2 linked regions of the Homo sapiens genome follow. The protein of the gene in region 2 purifies or fractionates together with the protein of the main gene of each other region. This does not show direct contact. Each region holds a gene or a part of one and is shown on either strand. Other genes may lie near its edges. The genes, in order: TRIM40 and PRKD2.

Evidence for each region.
Region 1: the proteins of PRKD2 (region 2) and TRIM40 purify together in Homo sapiens (affinity purification with mass spectrometry; 2 studies listed by BioGRID). This does not show direct contact.

The regions. Positions count from the first base shown.
Region 1 is NC_000006.12:30,136,705-30,146,501, reverse strand, and holds part of TRIM40 (E3 ubiquitin ligase TRIM40), read right to left. Parts: exon of another isoform or gene 9,770-9,797; 5' UTR 9,466-9,769; coding exon 9,121-9,465; intron 509-9,120; coding exon 413-508; intron 1-412. UniProt on the Homo sapiens protein: E3 ubiquitin-protein ligase that plays a role in the limitation of the innate immune response. Mediates inhibition of the RLR signaling pathway by ubiquitinating RIGI and IFIH1 receptors, leading to their proteasomal degradation.
Region 2 is NC_000019.10:46,701,223-46,717,738, reverse strand, and holds the start of PRKD2 (serine/threonine-protein kinase D2), read left to right. Parts: upstream 1-928; 5' UTR 929-1,368; coding exon 1,369-1,608; intron 1,609-1,688; exon of another isoform or gene 1,689-3,329; intron 3,330-3,418; exon of another isoform or gene 3,419-3,737; coding exon 3,738-3,876; intron 3,877-6,700; coding exon 6,701-6,832; intron 6,833-8,384; exon of another isoform or gene 8,385-8,457; intron 8,458-13,089; coding exon 13,090-13,244; intron 13,245-13,347; coding exon 13,348-13,570; intron 13,571-16,516. Other genes in the region: uncharacterized protein LOC107987269, read left to right, coding at 562-928.

The sequences.
Region 1 (9,797 bases), on a different chromosome or scaffold from region 2:
AGGCGGAGCTTGCAGTGAGCGGAGTTCGTGCCACTGCACTCCAGCCTGGGCGACAGAGCAAGGCTCCATCTCAAAAAAAAAATAAAATAAAATAAAAAGAAACAGAGGCCTATGGCTTGTGTAGTAATTTTCAGTTGACGAGACACTGGTCTCCTTTGATCCCTACTGTGATCCAGGCAGAGCAGGACTGGTTCTCATTTAACATGTAAGTCACATAAAGATCAGAGGGCTTAACTTGCGTAGGTCACTCAACCAGCAAACTTTGACGCCAAGGCCAACACCCGGGTTTTCAGCCTCCACGACCATCTGCCCACATCAGGCTGTTCCAGGGACAGACAGATGTCCAGAATAGTTAAGTAAGGGCTCCTGAGAACACTCCAGGGAGTCCTTCCCAGGAACCCGAAAAACCCACCTGCAGAGCCTGCAGTTTCTTCTCCTGCTGAGCCTTGAGCCGCTGAAGTTCTGCAATGTCCTTTCTGAGCTTCCTGCTCCGGCGATTGAGTCGTTCCTAAAGAGACAGACACACCTGCTTGTCAGACTGGGAGTGAGGGGGGCACCCACTGGGAGGAGTCAATGGAACACGGTAGGGGGCCTGATCCCAGAATGCAACTAATGTAAAATTCTGCCTAAAAAGAAATGCTTTTAGAGCATCATGGTTGGAGTAAGGGACTTGAGAGTTTATTTATTGGATAATGATGGGGGGAAATAGTAATGGGTAATTTTTTTACAGTCTTAGAAGTACAGAAAAAATAATAGATAGCAACAGAACCATTTCTACTTGACTTCAGGGTGCTTTCTCTCAACATACAAAAGTTATATGACAGTCTTCTAGCACTTCTTACTATTTTACAGTAACACATGGAGCCAGTCTGGAGGGAATTGCCTTAAAGAGGAAATGGCAACCCTCTGCTACCTCTGCTGCCTGGTCCTCACTGGGATGAGTGACAAGATAGAGCCCTTTACTAGGTGCAAACTCATAGCCCAGGTAGGCAGTGCCTTCTCTCTCAATCTTAAATCAGCATCTGGATGTGTCGCTGTGTCCTTGAAGCTATGGAGTTAAAGAATGATTTGAGTTTCTAAAAAAATTTTGCTTTCAGGTTTTTGATGACCTATAAGAGAAGCAAAAATAACAACAAATGCTTTAAATGGCTGCCCATGGTTCGGGGGGCAGTTGGAGGGTGAATGATAAAATAGAAAACAAAACGAGAAGAGATTTGTGAACTAAAGATCAGGATGTGCTATTAGCTGAAAAGTGTGTGTTTCACTAAATCTTTCCCACTTCAGATTTTTTTTTTTTAATCTTTTTTGAGGAGATTTTGGAGATGTACAGGTAGAAGTCAGGGGATGGTGAAGACAACTGAAAGTTCTTTCCAGCCTGAGAATTTCCTGGTGAAATCAAGGTCAAAGGACTGTGTGTGTGAGGGGTCAGCAAGGGCATTTGGTGAACAGAAAGCTGCAGTAAGCAGAGAAGACAGTGATGTCACCACAAAGTTACTAAAAACGTGTCACGTCACTGGGTGTTTCCTGCAGGCATTTCCCAGCAGAGACGAAATAAAAAAGTCATAGGAGTGGGAAGTAATAAATGGGCATCATGGATGTCGCTCATGAGTCTCGCTGAAGAAGGTGGCAGGCTGGTGTGGAACTGTTTGTGCGAGCACAAGAGTTCATGTCCTGAAAAGCACAAACAGCCTTCACCGCTTGCATCTACTCACTTGCTGCCCTCACAGTCAAGTTGTTTGGTGTTGCTGTCTTCACCTCCTCACTGTCGTCATTCCTCAGCCAGCCGCCTTGTTTCTCATCACTCCTTTAAAGCCTCTCTCTCCAAAGTCACCTGAGATCTCCAGCCATGAAATCCGCAGGTGCCTTTCTGTACCTCCTCTCCACCCCATCCTTCCTAGACCTGTGCCTTCTGCCACTGCTTCTTTGCCTCTTCATTTTTTTCTGTAAAAAGGAGCCTTGAAGTTGGCTCCTCAACCCTTTTCTATCTCAGACTATGTCCTTAGCTTTCCTTTCTGGAGCCTTCAGATCTTAGAATTCCAAAACCAAATCTTTTTTCCTAGCAATCCATCTCATGCTTCCAAGTGAGAGCTAAGTGCTGCCTACTGCCCTGTTGGCAGCTCAAAATCAATATGGTAGAATCAAACATGCTGCCCAGTTCCCCAAGCTCTTCTGCAGTCCACTCCTCTTGACCTTCATGTTTCTGACATTGGGACTGCCATTCTGCCTGCCATTCAGCTTGAAATCTGTCACATTTCACCTTTGTTGATGTTAGTCCTCCCTTCAAAATGGCTTCTCAGCAACAAAGATAAGCCCAAACTCCTTCACCCAGCATCCAAGGTGCCCCAGGACCCAGCCCCAACTGACATTGTCCGGGATTCTCTCTCTGCTCACTGAACTCTCTTCACCAGCACACAACATTGCTCTCTGCTTCCCAAACACACCCGTGCAGCCACACCTCCTCATGGCCTTTTACTTCTCTCTGTCAGGAGTGCTTTATTTTTCTGCCTGTCAAAGTCAGGCCTATTAAGGTCCAGTTCAAAAAGCCACAGTCCTATCATCTGGCAGTTTAAAATTTAATAAAGCCAACTACAGACACTGTGTAAATGAAAAAAAGAAGGCAAAGATAACAGTAATAAAGATAAAGGCATAGAATGACTGAAGATAATACTGTCATATTGTTTACAATATTCAAAATGAGTAAGGTAAAGTCCTCTGTTTCTAAAAAGTACTTTTTCACCAATTTTTGCATAAAGGTATTTAATGGGTGCATATAATATAAATAAGACACTCATTAGAATTGAAAAGCTAAATTCTATACACTTTCACCTACCAAAATATTCCTCAGAGAAAAAAAGACAAGTTGAAATCTAGAAAATAGTCGAAGACCTGTCTTGTCTAAATGAATATTTTAAAATTCTGTCATTCAGGTTAAATCATATTAAATTTTTAAAATCTGACAAAAAAGGGCATTAAATTTGTTCTTAAACAACTTGCTAACACAATGTACAAAAGAAAAGTGGTTAACAGACAAAAAGTACCTATCCCTGACACTGAAAAAAAAAAAAAAAAAGAAAAATTAACAGCTTTCAAAATGCATGCTCCTTACAGAACTGTGTCCAAAAATATGAATTAAAAACAACATCACTCACACAATTATGATCTAGAAAATGTCAGAAAATTTTTAAAAATGTATGGTAAATACATGAGCTCAGCAAAGAATCTCATTTGAATCTACAAGTAAAAATTGTCAAAAAAAATAGTGTTGTAAAATACATAGCTACCCTCAATAGAGTCAGGGCACATGAGGTTTAAGTAAAGACAATTTAATATCTGATTCAGATACATAGTGGAAAGCCGTTAGTGATGTATCTTGGTACTGGTTGAGAAGACTAACTAAACCCCCAAAAGTCATGATTCTTAGTAATCAACAAATTTAATGCAATAACCATTAAAATCTTATGGAATGATCTATGAAATTTAGAAACATTGTAAAAAAGCACTCATCTTAAAAGACAGCAAAAATATCAGGTAATAAAATTATTAAATGGCAAAAATGCTGCTAGATTTAAAAATAAACCATAAAGTAACATGTTGTCAAAACTATATAACAGAAAGAATAATCAATGGACTAGAGTAAAAAAAAAACAGCCCATCATGAGAACTTAATTGATGTCAAGCGAGAAACAACACGTAAATGTGGAAAGGACTCACTGTTATATAAATATTTTGGGAACAACTGGATACCAGAATAAAGGAAAATTAACGTGGAGTCATCCTTCACACAACATACTATATGAAATTCCAAGTAAGCCAGGAATTAATAAACCTTTAAAAATAAAACAGAGCAGCACACTCATATTAAACAAATTTCTGTGTATTTAAGACATGGAGATTATATTATAAAAAAGAATAGAGCCAATTTAAATGCAAATTTCTAAAAAGTTGCCCAAAAATATAATTAAGAAGAAATAACAGAATAAAAAAATGTAGGTTAAACAAACACAACTAATGGAGCTCATTATCCAAAAGATAAACTATTTTGATGCAATCATGTAGAATTTATGCCCTGATTCTAGGGGAAAATGCAGACAGCGAGTCTTCATGGATAAAAGCCTCACCACTACTAGCATTCATAATCAAGCAAAGTAAAACAACGTACATCACTGTCACACACTTACTAAACCAGCAAAATACATTAAAGTGATTGACACTGACATTGACTGGTCAGTGAGGAAACAGGTATACAAATAAGAATTTGTAGATTTTATAAATTTTTCGGTCTTTTTAGAGTACAGTCAGGGATTATATGATTCTTTTAAAAGAACAAAATTTACAATACTTAACTACAAAGTTTAATTCAAATAAATAGAGATATGGTGAAAAAATCAGTAAAAAAAAACCCTCCTTAATTTCAAAATTACGCTGTCAATATCCATGAGTACACATAAGGTCCACCATTATAATCACTTCTTCAGAAATATACTCAACTCCCTTACCCTCCCTCTCTGTGTTACTTTTCAGACAACTCCTTATCCATGGTAAAATGTACCATCACCTTCTTGTTTGCTGTCTGTCCTCAGGCAGCCTCCTGAAACATGTTAAACATTTCAGACCTCAAATTGGTGCTACATACTGTCTGCCAACCCTACATAGTTTCTCTTGTAAGCGCTCTCCCACACTGCATCACACCATCTTGTTTCTTTTCAAACCTTTCACATCCATCCTGATCCCACCCATACTGCTGATGTTCCTTCCTCAAATATTATGAGAAAATAAAAACCAGAACAAAACCTGGATTTCCAAAACTGCAAAACTATGTAGGCTTGCAGACACCTTCTCTTGTTCCCTGTTATTACTATGGAAGAAGTGTGCCTCCTCCCAACTCAGCTCTCATGCCTCTGCCACCATCTTACTGAAGTGTTAGCATTGTTCAATGCAATCTATTATAATCTCTTAAAATACCCTTCTCTCTTAGCAGCTGGGGCACCATTCCCCTTGTTTTTCTCCTGCCTTTCTGGCAACTCATCCTGTCTCCTTTGCTGGGTCCTCCTCTGCCTACATCTAAATGACGGCCTTTCCCAGAACCTTACCCCAAAACTTCTTTTTCTGTCTAGCCTCTTTTGAGGCAATTACATCAGTTTCCTTGGTTTCTTGGTTGTTTGTTTCTTTGTTTGAGACAGGGTCTTGCTCTGTCTTCCTGGCTGCAGTGCAGTGGCACAATCACAGCTCACTCCAGCCTCACTCTCTTGGGCTCAAGCAATCCTCCCACCTCAACCTTCCAAGTAGCTGGGACCACAGGCGTGAGCCACTGCACCCAGCCCCAAATTGTCACGTTCTTTTTTTTAAATCCTGTTAATTTCACTTTGTTGTTGCTGTTGTTGTTCTAGAGATAGTATCTCACTGTGTTGCCTAAGCTGGTCTTGAACTCCTGGGCTCAAGCGATCCTCCCACTTTGGCCTCCCAAAGTGCTGGGACTACAGGTGTGAGCCACCGTGCCCGCTTTTCTTGGATTTAAATATTGTCTTTGCCTGGATGGATCTTTGTTCTAGGTTCTAGGAATAAGACTCTGGAGATCTAAATTTGTGATCCAGCTGCGTATGTAAGATCCTATTTTGATGTGTCTCAACTTGGACTCAACTTGTCTTAAATGAAACTCTTGGTGTTGCATTCAAACCTGTTCTACCAAGTTATTATCTTTCACATCATCTATTCAGTTTCTCAAACCAGAAACTCATGAAGTCATCTTTGACCTTCCTCCTTCCTTCAACCCACTTTTTAAAATATATATACTTTAAGTTCTGGGGCACATGGACAGAACATGCAGGTTTGTTACATAGGTATACACGTGCCATGGTGGTTTGCTGCACCCATCAAACCGTCATCCACGTTAGGTATTTCTCCTAATGCTATCCCTCCCCTACCCCCCATCCCCTCACAGGCCCTGGTGTGTGATATTCCCCTCCCTGTGTCCACGTGTTCTCATTGTTCAACTCTCACTTACGAGTGAGAACATGTGGTGTTTGGTTTTCTGATCTTGTGTTAGTTTGCTGAGAATGATGGTTTCCATCTTCATCCACGTCCCTGTAAAGGACGTGAACTCATCTGTTTTTATGGCTGCATAGTATTCCATGGTGTATATGTGCCATATTTTCTTTATCCAGTCTATCGTTGATGGGCATTTGGGTTGGTTCCAAGTCTTTGCTATTGTGAACCATGCCACAATAAACATACGTGTGCATGTGTCTTTATAGTAGAATGATTTATAATCCTTTGGGTATATACCCAGTAATGGGATTGCTGGGTCAAATGGTATTTCTGGTTTTAGATCCTTGAGGAATCACCACACTGTCTTCCACAATGGTTGAACTAATTTACACTCCCACCAACAGTGTAAAAGCGTTCCTATTTCTCCACTTCGTCTCCAGAATCTGTTGTTTACTGACTTTTTAATGATTGCCATTCTAACTGGCAGAGATGGTATCTCATTGTGGTTTTGATTTGCATTTCTCTAAAGACCAGTGATGATGAGCATTTTTTCATATGTCTGTTGGTTGCATAAATGTCTTCTTTTGAGAAGCGTCTGTTCATATCCTTTGCCCACTTTTTGATGGGGTTGTTTTTTTCTTACAAAGAACCCACTTCTAATCTCTCAGTAAGTCCTGTCGATTCAAACTCTAATGATAAATTCTTCAAATATAACAAGACTTCTCAGGTGTGGGCATCTGTATGCACTCCCTACCCCCTGTCTTTGCAGGTTGATTTCTCTTCTGCCAGCCCTCAGCTTCAAGGTCACTTCCTCTATGAGGCCCTCACTGACCAAATGGACATGGGCCACCCATTACTGTTCATCCCAGACCCTTGTTTATTTTCTTCCTAACTAATAAAAAGTTACAGTTCTTTTGGGAGGCCAGCGCAGATGGATCATGAGGTCAGGAGTTCAAGACCAGCCTGGCCAAGATGGTGAAACCCTGTTTCTACTAAAAATACAAAAATTAGCTAGGCCTGGTGGTGGGTGCCTGTAATCCCAGCTACTCGGGAGGCTGAGGCAAAGAATTGCTTGAACCTGGGAGACGGAGGTTGCAGTGAGCCGAGATCATGCCACTGCTCTCCAGCTTGGGTGACAGAATGAGACTCCATCTCAAAAAAAAAAAAAAAAAAAAAAGAAAAAAAAGTTACAGTTCTTTGATTACTTATTTGTGTCTCCCTTACTACACTGCAAACTCCTGGCAGAAGGAATGGCATCTGTCTTCATTGATTCCTAGCACATGCTGCAGTTTCTCACACACAGCAGGAACTTACTAAGTTTTTACTTAATGAACAAGTGTCATCGTTATTTATTTGTTTTAGCTTTCTTGTCATTATTTAAAGACAGATTTGAAACAAGAATTATGAATCATCTTTGTACTTTCTACAATGCCTAGCATGACATCTAACACAAAGGACAGACCTGAAAAAATCATTTAGTGAGGAAATAAATTTCTCCATCTTATGCTGCTTCATCGGCAGGTGAGGAATCCCTCCCCACTCTCCTGTGGACATTGCACCTGGAGGGAATGATGTTAGAACCAAATAGAACTTTGCCTCTGGCTTTTTCAATTATTTCTCTACCTTTCTGTAGTCACTTTTAATCTGGACTCCCCACTTTCTCATTCTGTATCATAACATGTTCTCCAAAAGTCAAGTATCTCAAAGCTACCTCAGCTTTGGAAGTTCAGCCTTCACTATTGGATAGAAGGATGCCATGTGAAAATATTGTCAATTGTCCAGTCAAATACTAACTGGATTAGGGTCAGGGGAAAGGTTGATAAAAATAATTCCAAAGCTAATTGGCAAAATAAAGATATACAAATATCTGCACGAATTCTGAAAAATAAGAGTATTGTGAGGATTCTATCAAAATACCTGACATTAAAATATATGGTAAGGATAAAATCTCTAAAATACCTTGGCTTATAGGCAAGCATAGACAGAATAGAACAGCACAAAGAATCAAGGCAGTATGCAAGAAAATATGCATATATGGTATATTATGACATTGGCATTCAAATCAATGGGGAAACTATATGAATCATTCAACAAATGGTGATAGGACAAATTGATTATAACTTGGAAAAACTAAAGTTAGATTTCTACCTTATGCTCTCACCAAAATATATCTTGGATATTCTAGGTCCTCCAATATATATGTTGAAGGATATTCATTAGAACGTTCTGTGTAATCTTAAAACAAAACAATAGCTTGGAAATGACCCAATGTCTGCCAATTTATGGTACATTCATAGAATTTAATACCACACAGTTCTTGAAAATAATTCAGAAGATCTATACATGCTGATGAGAAAATGTTCAAGCCACACTTTTAGATAACAAAAATGAGTTACAGAAAAAAATATAGAGAGAATCCTTTGAGGGTGTGTGTGTGTGTGTGTGTGTGTAAGAGTGCATTCATAAGCACACACATTTTTTGGAAGGATGTACAAAAATCAAACAATGGTTACCTCTGAGGACTATGAATGGAGGGAGAAAGGAAGACAAATTTTTAGTCTTGACTTTATACCTTTCAGTGCTTTCTGAATTTATTACCTACAGCATGTAACTTTTGTGATAGAAAATTTAACAGAATAAGATAAAATAATTGCCATAGCAAAGAAAGGAAAAGGAAAGATAAGACAAATGCAGAAGGAAGAAAAAGAGAGAAAAAATTATGTAGTAACTTTCAGGTTTTAATATATTTGCAGGATAATTACTAGTGTATATAAAACCTGATTACATTTCTAGCCAAGTTTCTAGTACTATCAACCAGGAGTTCACACAGTTTTAGTCCTGAAAGGGTTTTGCATTAGTTAGTCCAATTACTCTATTCTACAGATGAGCAGACTGGGACTCTAACATCACACTGACAATATCCTCTTTTAGACAGACTCACATTAATGCATGGAAACATCAGCCTCAAAATATACACAGAAAAGCAAGACAAGGGTCCAAAACAGGATGAAGCAGAAGAAACAAAGAGAGATGTCCATTGTTGAGCTACTCTGAGGTGCCAGGCATGATGAACATGTAGGATGCAGCACCTCAGCGAGGTGGAGGCAGGGCCTGGCTGCGGTGACCCAGGCTTACCTTGTAGTGGCTGAGGGCATTTTCAATGGTCAGTTCATGATGAGACATGTGTTCAGGGGACACCAGGCATTCCACACATAGAAGAAGTCTGCTCTCCTCACAGAACCTGCACACCCTCTTCTGGTGGTTGGGGCAGATATAGCCTGTCCCTAGCACCTCCTCAGAACAGGGCTTCCGGCAGAGGGGGCAGCAGAAGACCCCAGAGGCTGAGGCCTTCTCCACATGCTGTGTCAGGCACACTCGACAGAAGAGATGTCCGCAGTTGGTGCTCACGGCCTCCTTCAGGCTCTCCTGGCAGATGGGGCAGACACCCTCCTCCTGGTTGTCCTTCTGCAAAGGGATCATGGCCTCGTTCCTACCCTGTCAGCCTCCTGTTTGCAGGGCCTCCTTCTTCACTGGTCTTCGGAAGGCCTGTTGCCCTCAACAGTCCCAGATAAGAAGGCCCAGTCGGAAGGAGGCAGCCCTGGAGCAGCCTGGGGACAGGACACAGCCTCCAAGTTCAGGCAATTGCCCACTCTCCCTCAAGGGTGCCGTGACATAGACCACACAAACCACAATTCTGCACGAGTTTCAGAAATAGCTCATCAGCTTTGACATGGACCCTGCGGTTTCCTTGTGTTTGTTAAACTTGAAATTATTTTTCATACACCTAGAGGAAGCAAGTGATTCAATAACCA
Region 2 (16,516 bases):
GGGCGGGGGGATGGACCCTCCCCACCCATCCAGTTAGCGCCATGCACCTTGCCCACCATCGCTGGAGACAGACCTAAGGCGAGCCCCTTCCTACCCATCTGGAGGCCTCGGTCTTTCCATGTGTTAAATGGGCTGGGGCCGGGGGACGCTCTGCAGCACCCCCTTCCCTGGGCTGGGACGCGGCGGGGAGGGCAGGGGTGACGCTCGGAGAACAGAGAGGCCGAACCCAGAGAGCGGGCCGGGACCTGATACCGATTTCCCACCCGTCCCCTGCCATGGGCGCCGGACGCCTGCCGGAGAGGGCTCCCCTCCTTAAAGGGCCAGTGGCCTCCAAGCCCGACGCCTGCGACCGGCGGTGGGTGATAGTGTTTCCCCTCCCTGTCCAGCCGAGGGAAAAGTTAACTTTCCAGGCTTGGCTGTGTTCAGGGAAGGAACTGGTCTCGCCTGCCTGCCCTCCATCCCTCACACCATCCCTTGTCCCGGACCCTGGAGGCGGAGGTCCAGCCCCCAACTCGGAGGCCCCGGGCCCACCCTCCCCTTCCGCCCCCGGCCCCTCGGCAGGCTCCGCCCCTCTCTGACGTCGCCGAGGCCCGCGCCGATTGGTCGACTGCACTGTCGCTCCGGACACTTCCTCCTGGGCCGCCGCCGCCGCCGCCGACTTAAACTTTGGAGGGGGAAAAAGAGCTACTGGCGCCTGGCGACCCTCCCTGCCCCCCACCCAACCCCGCTCCGGCAACGCCCCCTTCCTCACGGCTCCCGACCGAACTTTTCTCCAACTTCTGCGACTCGTGAGATTCCCTTCTACCCACTCCGGCCCTCGGGACCCCTCTGCCCATCCCCTGGCCGGTCGGGTCCCTGCGAACCCCTTTATCTCTGGAATCCACTCGGTCCCCGACTCAGAGACTCCTGCCCTCCACCCCCAAGGTGAATTCCCCCGGGCCGCCTTCTGAGTGGGATCCTCTTCTTGGAGCACTGGATCCTGGGATTCCCTCTGCCCCCTTCTCAATCCCTCCTCTAGGGAAGGGGCCTTTGAATCGCGGGCTCTCCTGATCCCTGTGACCCCGACCTACTAGATTTCCTCTCAGGCTTCTTGGAATCTCAATCGCTGGGACCTCCAACCCACTACTTTTCTCCTTTCTGATCTTCTGGGAGCCCTGGATTCCGGGCCTCTGACCCACTATAGTGCCTTTCTCTCCTTCCCAGGACCCCGCCATCCTCAGGTCCCCTCCGCCTGCCAGATCTTTTCTCGGATCCCCGCTCTCCCACCACCTGCTCACGAGATCCCGCGGATCTAGAACCCAGGGTCCCCCGGGGCCCCCCGGCCGGGTCCCGGGTGGGCTCCAGGCGGCCGGTCCCCGGCCTCCCCCCATGGCCACCGCCCCCTCTTATCCCGCCGGGCTCCCTGGCTCTCCCGGGCCGGGGTCTCCTCCGCCCCCCGGCGGCCTAGAGCTGCAGTCGCCGCCACCGCTACTGCCCCAGATCCCGGCCCCGGGTTCCGGGGTCTCCTTTCACATCCAGATCGGGCTGACCCGCGAGTTCGTGCTGTTGCCCGCCGCCTCCGAGCTGGCTCATGTGAAGCAGCTGGCCTGTTCCATCGTGGACCAGAAGGTGAGGGCGCAGGCTCCCTGGATCCAGCTCGGGGAGAGGTTGAAGGAGGGGGCGCTGGCAGAGGGGTCTGGGGCCTGGTGTGCGGAAGAGGGAGGAAGGAGACCTGAGCTTTGGGTGATGGAGGGATAGGGGGCATTGCCCCCCTCCATTGCCCCTCTCCCCACCATCCCTTTGAGAGAGGACTGGGCAGGGGTGGGGTGCCCCAGAGGCCTCCCCAAATTTCATGTCCCTGCATGTCGTTGTTTTCTGCAGCAAACAGGGAGGAAGGGAGGGGCCAGCCAGGTGTAGAGAGGGGAGGAAGGGGCAGCAGATGTCGGCGGACCTCCACGTCCAGGCCCATCCCGGGCCTCCCATTTGGTGGAAACAGGAGAAATTGAACCCGGGCTGGCCATGGTGATCCGGTGACATGTGTGGGTGCAGGTGCTTGAGTTAGCTGCCAGGGGCAAGTGAGGTCTCGGAGCCCAATTCTGCCCTCCCCTAAGCCTGAGATATGTGTGGAGGGGCAGGCACTCCTACAGACCCTGGGGACTCTATTCCCTTTCCTAGTCACAGTGCTGTTAGCCTACTCTTAATTTTGGACACCAGGGTCCCCAGGGTGGGCAGCTGGGTGTTATGGCAAGAGGAAACCAGGTGGAACTCCACGTCTAAACCGTGAAATGTTAAAAGAATAGTGGGCTTCTGTGTTGGAGTACTGGACTGTAGAAATGTTAGAATATTAGAATCATAACTTGTTGGAATATGCATCCTAGGCAATTAAATTGCCCCCATGTTCGTGTTCAAATATTAGAATTCTAGGTTTGTGAAATAGTAAAACATTAAAATGCTGGAATATTAGATTCCTAGATTGTTGAATCCTAGAAAGTTAAAATGTTAGAATTTTAGAATGCTGGATGGATGAGGTCCTTGAATGCTAAAGAATTCAAAGAGCACAGTCCTAGCTTGTCAGACTCCTAGAATATTAAAATATTAGATTACCGCTTATTTAGGTTATTGAAATCCTAAAATGTATAGTGATACCAGGTAGGAATCTAGAATGTATAATTCTATAATGTGAGCATGTTGGAGTCCCAAAATATCCAAATTCCAGAATCTTTTCAGACTCCTGGAAATGAATCCTTTGGGCATCAGAGAAACGTGGGGAACTGGGCCAGCTCCCCCATTCTACAGACAAGGAAACTGAAGCTTAGAGAAAAACTTCCCAAGGGGTCAGGGCCAAGGCAGTCCTGGTCTTCTGTGGACTCTCTCTTAGCAGTGAGAACTGATAGGGTTTTGCCCACCAAATGCCTCAATCCCGCAGGCCCAGCTCACCACCCCAACTCAGCCCACTTCATGGGAAGCTGGTGGCAGTGGGGGTACGGGGGCAGATTGTCCCTTGGGTGAACTTCTTTGTCCAGTGCTCAAGTCCCCAGCCTGCCCCGCTCAGGCTTCACCCCAGTTTTATTTTTCTGCCAGGTCCAGGTGTGTTAGGGCCGCTTACCTTCCTTCCCGAGGCCCCACCGGGGCAGTTTCACTTTCTGTTCTACTAGGTTTCATTTCCTGCCCCCAGGCCCCCAAAGCTGAGGACCCAGACACCTGGGTCCTTTGAGCATTGGGTGGCAGGCGCCCTCCTTATCTCCAGCGCCCTCGAGTCCAAGTCCCCCGGCCCCCCCCCCCACTTTCCCAGGAGCCCCGAAAAGTCCTCCTTCCAGCTCGCCCCACCCCAGTGCTGGGCCTGGAGCCAGGTAACTGGGACAACAATAGACAGATCCAGGAAGGAAGCTGGGGGGCGGGTGTGTGAGCCTGGGGAGGAGGCACAGGGGAGGGAGTGTTCATTCAGCATCCCCTCCCACCTCCGCCAGGTTCCGGAAAATTCGAGGTGTCCACGCTCCCGGAGCCACTCTCCCTCCCACCCCAGCTCCCCCTTCCAGCCACCAAACCCACGCCGGCGCCCCCTCCCCGTACAATTGGGGCGCTGGCATCCTGCCCGGCTCGCGCTGGGGTTGGGAGGGGGCAGGCAGGAAGCGAGGGCCTGCGGGGTCTCTGCGTTTCCGGGGGAAACAGCCGGCCCTGCCCTGGGAGGGTCACAGTCCGCCCGCTGCTGAAGGCGGCTCTGAGCTTTTCCGTCGCCACATCCCTCTCCCGCCCCTCAGTTCCCTGAGTGTGGCTTCTACGGCCTTTACGACAAGATCCTGCTTTTCAAACATGACCCCACGTCGGCCAACCTCCTGCAGCTGGTGCGCTCGTCCGGAGACATCCAGGAGGGCGACCTGGTGGAGGTGGTGCTGTCGGGTGAGAGGTGGTGGCCGGCCTGGGGGCGGGGCCTCGGGTGGGGGCGGGGCATCTGGGGGAGGAGAGGGTAGGGGGAGTTAGAAGTCAGGAGAGGCCGGGTGTAGTGGCTCACGCCTGTGATCCCAGCACTTTGGGAGGCTGAGCTGGAGCTGGGGGGATCGCTTGAGCCCAGGAGTTCGAGATCAGCCTGGGCAACATAGTGAGATTCCATCTCTACCCCTTTCTCTCCCTCTGAAAAAAAAAAATAAGGAGAGTTGGGGGCTTCTGGAAGATGGTTACAGAGTGGGGTCATGAAGGCGCTCTTTAGGGACTGGTCTAAACTTTCATTTATGGATTAGGATGCTAGTGACACGCTTTGTACAGTTTGAAAATTCATTGAGCTGTGCACTTGTGATGTGCGGCCTTTCCTGAACATATGTTATACTTATTTATTTATAAAACTAGTCAAGTGCAGTAGTTAGAAGGGGGAAAAGAGGAGAAGAAGGAGTTGGATCTGTAACTGACTGTGTTATGCTTAAATATAAAGGTAAAAAATGGGCCAGCTGCAGTGGCTCACACCTGTAATCCCAGCAGTTTGGGAGGCTGAGGTGGGAGGATCGCTGGAGCCCAGGAGTTTGAGACCAGCCTGGGCAACATAAGGAGACCCCATCTCTTAAAAAAAAAAAAAAAAAAAAAAGTTAACCGGGCGAGGTGGCACACGTCTGTAGTCTCAGCTACTTGGGAGGCTGAGGTGGGAGGATTTCTTGAGCTTAGGAGTTTGAGGCTGCAGTGAGCCACGATCATGTCACTGCACTCCAGCCTGGGCAACAGAGAGAGACCCTATCTCTAAAAAAGAAAAAAAGTAGAAAAAGAAAAAAAAAAGTTATGATGTCCATGGCTCCTGCCACGAAAATGCTAAATTAAATCAGAATCTCTGCAAAGTGAGATGGAATCTGCACATCAGTATTTTTAAAAGCCCCCAGGTGATTTTCTAAGACACAGCCAGAAGCCAGTTCATCCACTCACTATTCCAGTAGTATAGATGGGCATGCTCTCAGCACCTTAGAGCAGTCTATGGCCCTTGGTCCCTCTTGAGGGTGGGGGCAGCTGCCTTTTTCATGGCTGCCTTCCCTGCTGCTCCGGCATACTGCAGTGCCCAGTGAAACCGGCTCAATGAATGAATGACAGAAGTCTGGATTTACACCTTTAGTGACCTTGTTCAGGCTTTAAGTACTCTTTCATATCATAAGCTGGCCTCACTTGAATTTTTATCTTCATTGTTGTCTCTCCCCTAAACCTGAGTTTTGTTTTGTTTTTGTCATTTTTATTATTTTTTGTTTTTTTAGACGGAGTCTCGCTCTGTCACCCAGGCTGGAGTGCAGTGGCGCAAACTCAGCTTGCTGCAACCTCTGCCTCCTGGGTTCAAGCGATTCTCCTGCCTCAGCCTCCCGAGTAGCTGGGATTACAGGCGCCTGCTACCACACGTGGCTAATTTTTGTATTTTTAGTAGAGACGGGATTTCACCTTGTTGGCCAGGCTGGTCTCGAACTGCTGATCTTAAGTGATCTGCCCACCTCAGCCTCCCAAAGTGCTGCGATTACAGGTGTGAGCCACCGCTCCCGGCCCTGTTATTTTGTTTTGAGGCAGGGTCTTGTTCTGTCACCCAGGCTGGAATGCAGTGGCATGACCACCACTCACTGCAGCCTCTACCTCCCAGACTGAAGCAATCATCCCGCCTCAGCCTCCTGAGGTGGCTGGACTATAGGCATTACAGGCATGCACCACCACACTGGGCTTTTTTTTTTTTTCTTTTTTTTAGACAGAATCTTACTCTGTCACCCAGGCTGGAGTGCCGTGGCATGATCTTGGCTCACGGCAACCTCTGCCTCCCGGGTTCAAGCAATTCTCCTGCCTCAGCCTCCTGAGTAGCTGGGATTACAGGCACGCGGCACCAGGCCTGGCTAATTTTTGTATTTTTAGTAGAGACGGGGTTTCATCATGTTGGCCAGGCTGGTTTCGAACTTCTGACCTCAAGTGATCCGCCCACCTGGGCCTCCCAAAGTGCTGGGATTACAGATGTGAGCCACCGGGCACCGCCTATCCATGTTCTTTTTTGTTGTTGGTGGTGGTATTTTTAATTAAAAATTTTTTAATTTGGTAAAATATACATAACATAAAAATTACTATTTTAGGCCGGGTGCAGTGGCTCACGCCTGTAATCCCAACACTTTGAGAGACCGAGGCGGGCAGATCACCTGAGGTCGGGAGTTTGAGACCATCCTGGCCAACATGGTGAAACTCCGTCTCTACTAAAAATACAAAAATTAGTCGGGTGTGGTGGCGCATGCCTGTAATCCCAGCTACTCTGGAGGCTGAGGCAGGAGAACTGCTTGAACCCGGGAGGCGGACTTGTGGTGAGCCGAGATCTCACTACTGTACTCCAGCCTGGGTGACAGAGTGAAACTCTCTAACAAACACAAACAAAAAAGCCCACAACATTTTAAGCACTTTTAAGCGTACAGTTCAGTAATTTAAAGTTCACGCACACTGTTGTGCAGCCGGTCTCCAGAACTGTTGTCATCTTGCGAAACTGAAGCTCCTTGCCCGTTAAACAACTCCCCAATTCCCGCTCTGTCCCTGCCCAGGGCGTAGGGATATATGTGTTTTGTTCAGGGGTGGAGCTGGGATTTGAACCCAGGCAGAATGTAGTATGAGAGCAAATGAAGGAAGGAAGGAAAGATCACACCTTGCGGCTGGGAGCACTGTGAGAAATCAGGGAACGTGGGGTCTGGAAAAGCTTTGGCCTACCCCGCCTCAAGCATCCACCCCTATTTTCCGCCTACAGCCTCGGCCACCTTCGAGGACTTCCAGATCCGCCCGCACGCCCTCACGGTGCACTCCTATCGGGCGCCTGCCTTCTGTGATCACTGCGGGGAGATGCTCTTCGGCCTAGTGCGCCAGGGCCTCAAGTGCGATGGTGAGAGCTAAAGGGTTGGGGGCGGGGCCTGGGGCGGGGCTCTGCACCGGGGGCGGAGCGTAATGGTCCTGGCACGGGGACAGCGTGGGGAGGAGGAGCGGGTCTCAGAGCTGGGGGCGCAGCCTAGGAAGTAATAATGGGAAGAAGGATGGGCCCAGAAGCAGAGCTTGGGGAAGGAGTGGTGGGGCTGGGCCGGGGCTCAGGTCTAGGGGCGGAGCCTAGGAGGTGGAGCTGGGAGGGACAAGTAGGGGCTTAAGAACAGAGCCTAGGGGAGCAGAAGGGTGGCGGGGGAAGAGGGTGGGGCCTCTATCAGTTAGGGATCAAGCAGAGAAACATCCAGGAGGAGATATATATTGAGATATTTATATGCAAGGAATCAGCTTACAGAATTGTGTGGGCTGGCTAGGCAACTCAAATCTGGCTGGGCACAGTGGGGGAGGCCAGTAATCCCAGCACTTTGGGAGGCAAAGGTAGGTGGATCACTTGAGGCCAGGAGTTCAAGACCAGCCTGGGCAACATAGCAAGACTCTGCCTGTACAAAAAATAATTAGCCAAGCATGGTGACAGACACTTGTGGTCCCAGCCACTTGGGAGGCTGAGGCGGGAGGATCACTTGAGCCTGGGAGCTCGACACTGTAGTGAGCCCTGATTGCACCACTGCACACCAGCCTGGGTGACAGAGCGAGACCCTGGCTCAAAAACAGGAAAAAGGCCGGACACGGTGGCTCATGCCTGTAATCCCAGCACTTTGGGAGGCCGAGGCGGGTGGATCACGAGGTCAGGAGATTGAGACCCTCCTGGCTAACATGGTGAAACCCCGTCTCTACTAAAAATACAAAAAATTAGCCGGACGTGGTGGCACACGCCTGTAGTCCCAGCTACTTGGGAGGCTGAGGCAGGAGAATTGCTTGGACCTGAGAGGAGGAGGTTGCAGTGAGCCGAGATTGTGCCACTGCACTCCAGCCTGGTGATAGAGTGAGACTCCTTCTGAAAACAGAAACAAAAACAAAACAATAAAAAGAAAAAGAAAAAAAAATCCATCCTATCAGGAAGGGCAAGTGGGAACTCAGGCACAAGCTGAAGCTGATGTCCACAGGTGGAATTTCTTCATCCGAAAAGTCTCTGATCTGCTTTTTAAAACATTCAGCTGATTGAATGAGACCCACCTAGAACAAGCAGGATCACCTCTCCCACTTACAGTCAGCTGATTATGGATTTTCATCACATCCAGAAAATACCTCCACTGGGCCGGGTGCGGTGGCTCACGCCTGTAATCCCAGCACTCTGGGAGGCCGAGGCAGGTGAATCACCTGAGGTCAGGAGTTCGAGACCAGCCTGTCCAACATGGTGAAACCCCGTCTCTACTAAAAATACAAAAAAGCCGGCGTGTTGGTGGACGCCTGTAATTCCAGCTACTCGGGAGGCTCAGTCAGGAGAATCTCTTGAACCCGGGAGGCAGAGCTTGCAGTGAGCTGAGATTGCACCATTACACTCCAGCCTGGGCAACAAGAGCAAAACTCTGTCTCAAAAAAATGAAAAGAAAAGAAAATACCTCCATGGGGCCTTCTCTTCCCAGTTCTTCCTGGAGTCGGGGAAAAGCTGGGTTGAGAAGGTGAAAAGAAAAAACAAACCTTGACTGGGCACAGTGGTTCACACCTGTAACCCCAGCACTTTGGAGGCTGAGGCAGGCGGATCATGAGGTCAAGAGATTGAGACCACCCTGGCCAACATGGTGAAACCCCATCTCTCCTAAAAATACAAAAATTAGCGGGCGTGGTGGCATGTGCCTATAGTCCCAGCTACTTGGGAGGCTGAGGTAGGAGAATCACTTGAACCCAGGAGACAGAGGTTGCAGTGAGCCGAGATCGTGCCACTGCACTCCAGCCTGGCAACAGAGCGAGACTCCGTCTCAAAAAAAAAAAAAAAAAAAAAAACCACAAACAAACCAACCTTCATGGCAACATCTAGATTAGTGTCTGAATAACTGTGGATCTCGCCTAGCCAAGCTGACACATTAACATGACTATCAGGGTCCATCTCTTGTCAACCTGGCACCTGTCTTAGTTTGTCAGGGCTGCCTTAACAAAATACCACCCTGCGTGGCTTAAATGACAGACATTTACTTCTCAAAATCCCTGGAATTGTGAGAGGCTGGAAAGACAAAGATCCAGATTCTGGCAGGGTTCTGTTTCTGGTGTAGCCTGCTTTCCTGCCTTGCAGAGGGCCATCATTTCACTGTGCGCTCACATGGGACACGGAGAGAGAGATCCCTGGTATCTCTTCCCTTTATAAGGAAGGCCAGGCATGGTGGCTCATGCCTATAATCCCAGCACTTTGGGAGGATGGTGGATCGCTTGAGTCCAGGAGTTCGAGACCAGCATGGGCAACATGGTGAAACCCCGTCTCTAAAAAATACAACAAATTGGCCAGGCATGGTGGTGCATACCTCTAGTCCTAGCTACTCAAGAGGCTGAGGTGGGAGGATCACCTGGGCCTGGGAGGTTGAGGCTGCGGTGAGCCGTGATCATGCCACTGCACTCCAGCCTAGGTGACAGAACACGATTGTCTCAGAAAAAAAAAAAAAAAAAAAAAAAAAAAGGTCACCAGTCCCATTGGATTACAGCCACACTCTTTCGGCCTCAATTAACCTTAATTACCTCCATAAAGGCACCGTCTCCAGATATAGTTGCATTGGAGGTTAGGGTTTCAACATAAGAATTTTGGGGGAGACACAGACATTTAGTCCATAACAGCACCCATACATATCTCCTTAAATCATAGTTTAAAAATATACAGGTTTTCTTTTTTGGAGACAGCGTCTCAGTCTGTCACCCAGGCTGGAGTGCAGTGGCGCGATCTCAGCTCACCACAACCTCCACTTCCCAGGCTCAAGCGATTCTCCTGCCTCAGCCTACCGAGTAGCTGGGATTACAGGCACACACCATTACTGCCCGGCTAATTTTTGTATTTCTAGTAGAGACGGGGTTTCACCACGTTGGCCAGGCTGGTCTTGAACTCCTGACCTCAAATGATCCACCCGCCTTGCCCTCCCACAGTGCTGGGATTACAGGCATGAGCCACCGCGCCTGTCCAAAACATACAGTTCTTTAAGCCAAGATGTCTCAAGGTTCAGCCCAAGTGTCAAGATCTATATAGGTCCTCTGTCCCTGTTATTCATGCTTCTGAGTGAGAATGTTGAAATCGGGGCTCTGCCTACAGATGAAGGCCATGTACCTGCATTGGCTATGAGGACAGATGACAGGTGAGGACCATCCATTCTGTGATGAGACCCTGTGGCTCCATTGTTTTGTGTGTGTGAGACAGAGTCTTGCTCCGTCACCCAGGATGGAGTGCAGTGGCGTGGTCTTGGCTCACTGCAACCTCTACCTCCTGGGTTCAAGCAATTCTCCTGCTTCAGCCTCCCAAATAGCTGGGATTACAGGTGCGCACCACCACTCCTGGCTAATTTTTGTATTTTTAGTAGACGGGGTTTCACCATGTTGGCCAGGCTGGTTTCAAGTAATCCACCCTCCTCAGCCTCCCCAAGTGCTGGGATTACAGACATGAGCCACTGCGCTGGGCCCCATGCGCCTCCATTTTTGTATGGTGTGCCCTGCAATTAGAGCCATATTCTTGGATGTTCCATTGGGTATTAGGTCTGAGACAGCATCTCTAGCTCCGTGGGTGCCACGCTTGTACAGAAATCCTGATTCTGGGCCAGGCACGGTGGCTCACACCTGTAATCCCAGCACTTTGGGAGGCCAAGGCGGGCGGATCATGAGGTCAGGAGTTAGAGACCAGCCTGGCCAACATGGTGAAACCCTGTCTCTACTAAAACTAGAAAAATTAGCTGGGTGTGGTGGCGGGTACCTATAATCCCAGCTACTCGGGAGGCTGAGGCAGGAGAATCATTTGAACCTGAGGGGGTGGAGGTTGCAGTGAGCCGAGATCATACCATTGCACTCCAGCCTGGGTGACAGGGTGAGACTCCGTCTCAAAAAAAAAAAAAAAAAAGAAATCCAGTTTCTCCAATATCCTGTGTTCCAGATCATCATGCAGTCCAAAGTATACTTGTATTATTTAAGGACTCTAGGCCTGCAGATACTGATTCAGTGCATTAAAAGCTCTTATAAATATTGCCATCGTCCACACACCATATCCAACTCTTGAGGTCTCAGCATATGCAGTCTTTGTCATGATACAGCCCTGGTGTCATCAAGTCCTAATGGGTTATCAGCACAGACTTCACTGGTGCAGCATCACAGATGATGGTCCCAGTTCCTATGGTGGCAAGAGAACCCCAAATGACTACATTCCGACAGGAGTTTAACTCTATCCTGAGACTCATTCTGAGAGTTATAGATAAGATTCTGAAATTCTGGAAGGCACATGAGTGATTCAAGGCCAACACTGGGAAATGGTTCCTGTGTGCAAAGACCATTTGCCCTGCTGAAGCTCTTCTTGCAGGGCCAACACCGTTCTCCAAGCTTGCCTCCGTGATTACAGCATGCAGCCAAGACAGTGCCTACAATGAGGAGGTGTGGAACTGGAAAGCCTGGAGCAGGCGGGTACCAGAAGGGCTCCCAAAGGCTGGAGGAACATTCTTCACTCCAGAATAGAAAGCGATCCTGGAATCGTTTGGAATCACTGGAGATGTATTAGAGCACACATACAGAACGTCCAGTGGGAAACAGGGAGTTGAGCTGATTTCTCCATGGATGAGGATTTTAAAAGATAAAATAGGCAGGGCACAGTGGCTCATGCCTGTAATCCCAACACTTTGGGAGGCTGAGGTGGGAGGATCACTTGAGCCCAGGAGTTCAAGACCAGCCTGGGCAATGTAGCGAGACCCCATCTCTACAAAAAAATAAAAATAAAAAAATTATCTGGGCATGGTAGTGTATGTCTGTGGTTCTGGCTACTCAGGAGGCTGAGGCAGGAGGATTACTTGAGCCCAGGAGTTGAAGGCTGCAGTGAGCTATGATTGTGCCATTGTGCTTCAGCCGGGGGTACAGGGAGATCCTGTCTCTACAAAATAAAATAAGACAATAAGAAGTCATACTTCTGCCTAGTATGGTACAATGGACCTGAGTACAACTGAGAACTCTTTTTTTTTTTTTGAAACTGAGTCTCGCTGTATTGCCCAGGCTGGAGTGCAGTGGCGTGATCTCAGCTCACTACAACCTCTGCCTCCTGGGTTCAAGTGATTCTCCTGCCTCAGCCTCCGGAGTAGCTGGGATTACAGGCGTGTGCCACTACACCCGGCTAAGTTTTGTATTTTTAGTAGAGATGGGGTTTTGCCATGTTGGCCAGTGTGGTCTCAAACTCCTGACCTCAAGTGATCCGCCGGCCTTGGCCTCCCAAAGTGCTGGGATTACAGGCGTGAGCCACCATGCGTGGCCCACACTACTAAGATTTAATCACACTACTTAGGGATTGCCTGGATTCCAGGTCTACAGAAAAGAGAAAGTGGGGTACAGGGGGTGAGCAGACCTGGAGGGATAGTGACCTTAGGGGTGGGGGTGAGGAGAGGCATTTTCTTTTGGAAAGTTGGGGTTGGGGAAAGAGGGGGAACCAAAGGGGCCTCAGAAAAAGGAAGGTCAGGGTTAGAAGGGGGAACAGGTGTCTCTAGGGAGATGGACAGGAGTTTTGGGGAGGACTAGAAGGAGGTGCTTACCATAGAGGACTGGGGCTGGGTCAGAGCTTTGGCGGGGACTTTTGAGGCATCCATTGTTGCAGTGGGAAAAGGTGGGGTGTGAGGCGCGTTCAGGGCCTGGGGGGCAGATGGGGTGATGTCGGGGCTACAAGCTGGAACTAGGGGTGGAGCTTTGGAGGGAACCTTTGAGGTATCCCTTGTTGGAGTGGGAAAATTTTGGGTGTGAGGCGTGTTCAGGGTCTGGGGGACAGATGGGGTGATGGCAGGGCTACAAGCTGAAACTGGGGACAGAGCTTTGGGGGGAGCCTTTGAGGTGTCCCTTGTTGGAGTGAGAAAAGGGGTGTGGGTGTGTTCAGGGTCTGGGGGACAGATGGGGTGATGGTGGGGCTACAAGCTGGAACTTGGGGCAGAACTCTAAGGAGGGGTGGGCCTGAAGGGGCTGATACACTTACGGATAGTAGTGCCTTTTGGAGGAGATCGTGCTGGCGGGGGGTGATGGGACAGGACCAGGTGAGAGATTGGGTGGAAAGGGCACAACTTCTCAAGAAGAGACCTAGGAGGGGCAGACGCCATGTCTCTTACTCTCTGGCGCCCCCTGCAGGCTGCGGGCTGAACTACCACAAGCGCTGTGCCTTCAGCATCCCCAACAACTGTAGTGGGGCCCGCAAACGGCGCCTGTCATCCACGTCTCTGGCCAGTGGCCACTCGGTGCGCCTCGGCACCTCCGAGTCCCTGCCCTGCACGGCTGAAGAGCTGGTGAGGAGATGGGGGATGGGACGGGTTGGTGGCTAGGGGGGTGACTTGGCCCAGGCATGGGGCCAACGCACTGATGTGTCCCCTCCATTCTTGCCAACGACAGAGCCGTAGCACCACCGAACTCCTGCCTCGCCGTCCCCCGTCATCCTCTTCCTCCTCTTCTGCCTCATCGTATACGGGCCGCCCCATTGAGCTGGACAAGATGCTGCTCTCCAAGGTCAAGGTGCCGCACACCTTCCTCATCCACAGCTATACACGGCCCACCGTTTGCCAGGCTTGCAAGAAACTCCTCAAGGGCCTCTTCCGGCAGGGCCTGCAATGCAAAGGTTAGCTGGGCCTGTCGGGGAGGACAGACAGGGTCAGAACCTCCTTCCCGCCCCAACCTGGTCTTGTGGCAGGACACAAGGATCTGAGCCTTGGGACCCCAGGGCCTCAGAAGGGGAGGGCCCTGAATCCTAGTGTTCTGGGACCTTTGGAATTCTGGAATCTTAGAACCTCAGTTGTGTGTGTGTGTGTGTGTGTGTGTGTGTGTGTGTTGTTGTTGTTTTTTGGAGACAGGGTGTCACTCTATCACCCAGGCTGGAGTGCAGTGGCGCAATCACGGCTCACTGCAGCTTCAACCTCCTGGGTTCAAGTGATCCTCCTGCCTCAGCCTCCCAAGTAGCTAGGACTACAGGTGGTGCCACCACACCCAGCTAATTTTCTTTTCTTTTTTTTTTTTTTGAGACGGAGTCTCACTCTGTCGCCCAGGCTGGAGTGCAGTGGTGTGATCTCGGCTCACTGCAAACTCTGCCTCCTGGGATCAGGACATTCTCCTGCCTCAGCCTCCTGAGTAGCTGGGACTACAGGCGCCCGCCACCATGCCTGGCTAATTTTTTTGTATTTTTAGTAGAGACGGGGTTTCACCATGTTAGCTAGGATGGTCTCGATCTCCTGACCTTGTGATCCACCTGCCTCGACCTCCCAAAATGCCGGGATTACAGGCGTGAGCCACCGCGCCTGGCCACACCCAGCTAATTTTTAAATCATTTGTAGAGAGAAGGTATCACTATATTGTTCAGGCTGGTCTTGAACTCCTGGGCTCAAGCAATCCTCCTACCTCGGCCTCCCAAAGTGCTGGGATTACAGGTGTGAGCCACCGCGCCCAGCTGAACCTCAGTCTTTAGAACCTTGGAATCCTAGATTCATAACGTGCTTAGCATGGAATTCTAAAACTGTAGAACCTGAGAATTCTAGAATCAGAACCATAGCATTCAAGAATTCCGAATGATAGAATTCAGCTAAAATAACAACAGAACTTTAGATTACACATCTTAGATCTCCCAAGTTATAGACTCTCAGAGCATGAGAATTTTGGAACCATGGGATTTGAGGGTAATAGAAACATAGGCACATCAAATTTGAGAGTCTTAGACGTCTAGAATCATATAAGCTTGAAACCATCGTAACCTAGAATCCTGGAAATTCTAGACTCCCAGAACTTTGAACAATCAAATTCTAGAATCCAGCCAGGTGTGGTGGCTCATGCATGTAATCTCAGCACTTTGGGAGGCCAAGGTAGGTGGATCACTTGAGCCTAGGAGTTTAAGACCAGCCTGGGCAACATGGTGAAACCCTGTCTCTACAAAAAAAATTAAAAATTAGCCAGGCATGGCAGCATGCATCTGTGGTTCCAGCTACTTGGGACTCTGAGGAGGGAGGATTGCTTGAGCCCAGGAGGTTGAGGCTGCAGTGAGCCATGATTGTGCCACTGCATTCCAGCCTGGGTGACAGAGCAAGAACTTGTCTCAAAAAAAGAAAAAAAAAAATTCTAGAACCTCAGAAGCCTAGATCCACATAAACTTAGAAACATCCAATTCAAGAATTTACTGGAACAATCAAATTCTAGAATCTTAGAAGCCTAGAGCTAAAGAAGCATAGAAACATCAAATTCTAGAATCTTGTATGTATAGAATCCTAGAACCTTGGAATCTGCAGATTCTGGAGGTAGAGAAGCCTAGAATTGTAGAACCCTAGAACTGTCAAATTTTAGAGTTTAGATATATAACACCCTAAAATCTTGGACATTAAAGAGTCTTAGAAGTGTTGACTCATAGATGTCTAGAGTTCTAGAAACTTGGACATCAAACTCTGAAGCCTTAGAAATACGGAATCAGGTCAGGGGCAGTAGCTCACACCTGTAATCCCAGCACTTTGGGAGGCTTAGGTGGGTGGATTGCTTGAGCCCAGGAGTTCAAGACCAGCTTGTACAACATGGAAAGACCCCATCTCTACAAAAAATACGAAAAATTAGCCAGGCATGGTAGTGCGTGCCTGTAGTTTCAGCTACTCAGGAGGCTGAGGTGGGAAGATCGCTTGAGCCTGGGAGGCAGAGGTTGCAGTGAGCCGAGATGGTGCCATTGCACACTCTAGTCTGGGTGACAGCCAGACTGTTTCTTAAAAAAAAAAAAAAAAAACAAAAAACAGAATCATAGAACCTTCATAAAATAGGTTTTTAGTAAACTCTAGAATCTTCGATGTATAGTGTCCCTAGAACCGTGGAAACACTGAACTCTACAGCAATGGTTCTCGACCAGGGGCCGTTTTGCTCCTAGGGGATGTTTGGCAAGGGTTGGAGATGGTTTTGTTTGGTACGCTGGGATAGTGCTACTGGCATCCAGTAGGTAGAAGTCAGAGATGCAGCTAAACATCCTACAATACACAGAGCAAGTGCCCTAAAACAAGGAATTATCCTGGGCACTGTGTTAGTGTCACGGGTTGAGGAACCCAGCCCTAGGGTGTTCAGAGTCTGGAGTCACAGCACATTAGAACCAATAACACACACACACACACACACACACAAGTCGGGCGCGGTGGCTCACGCCTGTAATCCCAGCACTTTTAGGAGGCCAAGGCAGGTGGATCATCTGAGGTCAGGAGCGCGAAACCAGCCTGACCAACATGGCGAAACCCCGTCTCTACTAAAAACACAAAAAAATCAGCTGGGCGTGGTAGTGGGCGCCTGTAGTCCCACGCCCAGCTAATTTTTGTATTTTTAGTAGAGACGAGGTTTTACCATGTAGGGCAGGCTGGTTTCGAACTCCTGACCTCAAATGATCTGCTCTCCCCGGCCTCCCAAAATACCGAGATTACAGGCGGGAGCCACTGCACCCAGCAGTCGTCGGGATTTTGAGTCTAGCCCTCCTACTTAATCAAGACCCCCCCGATGGTTGGGAAAACTGTGGCTGAAAGTGGGAAAATGACCAGGGCAGCAGCAGCCAGTGTTCTTACCC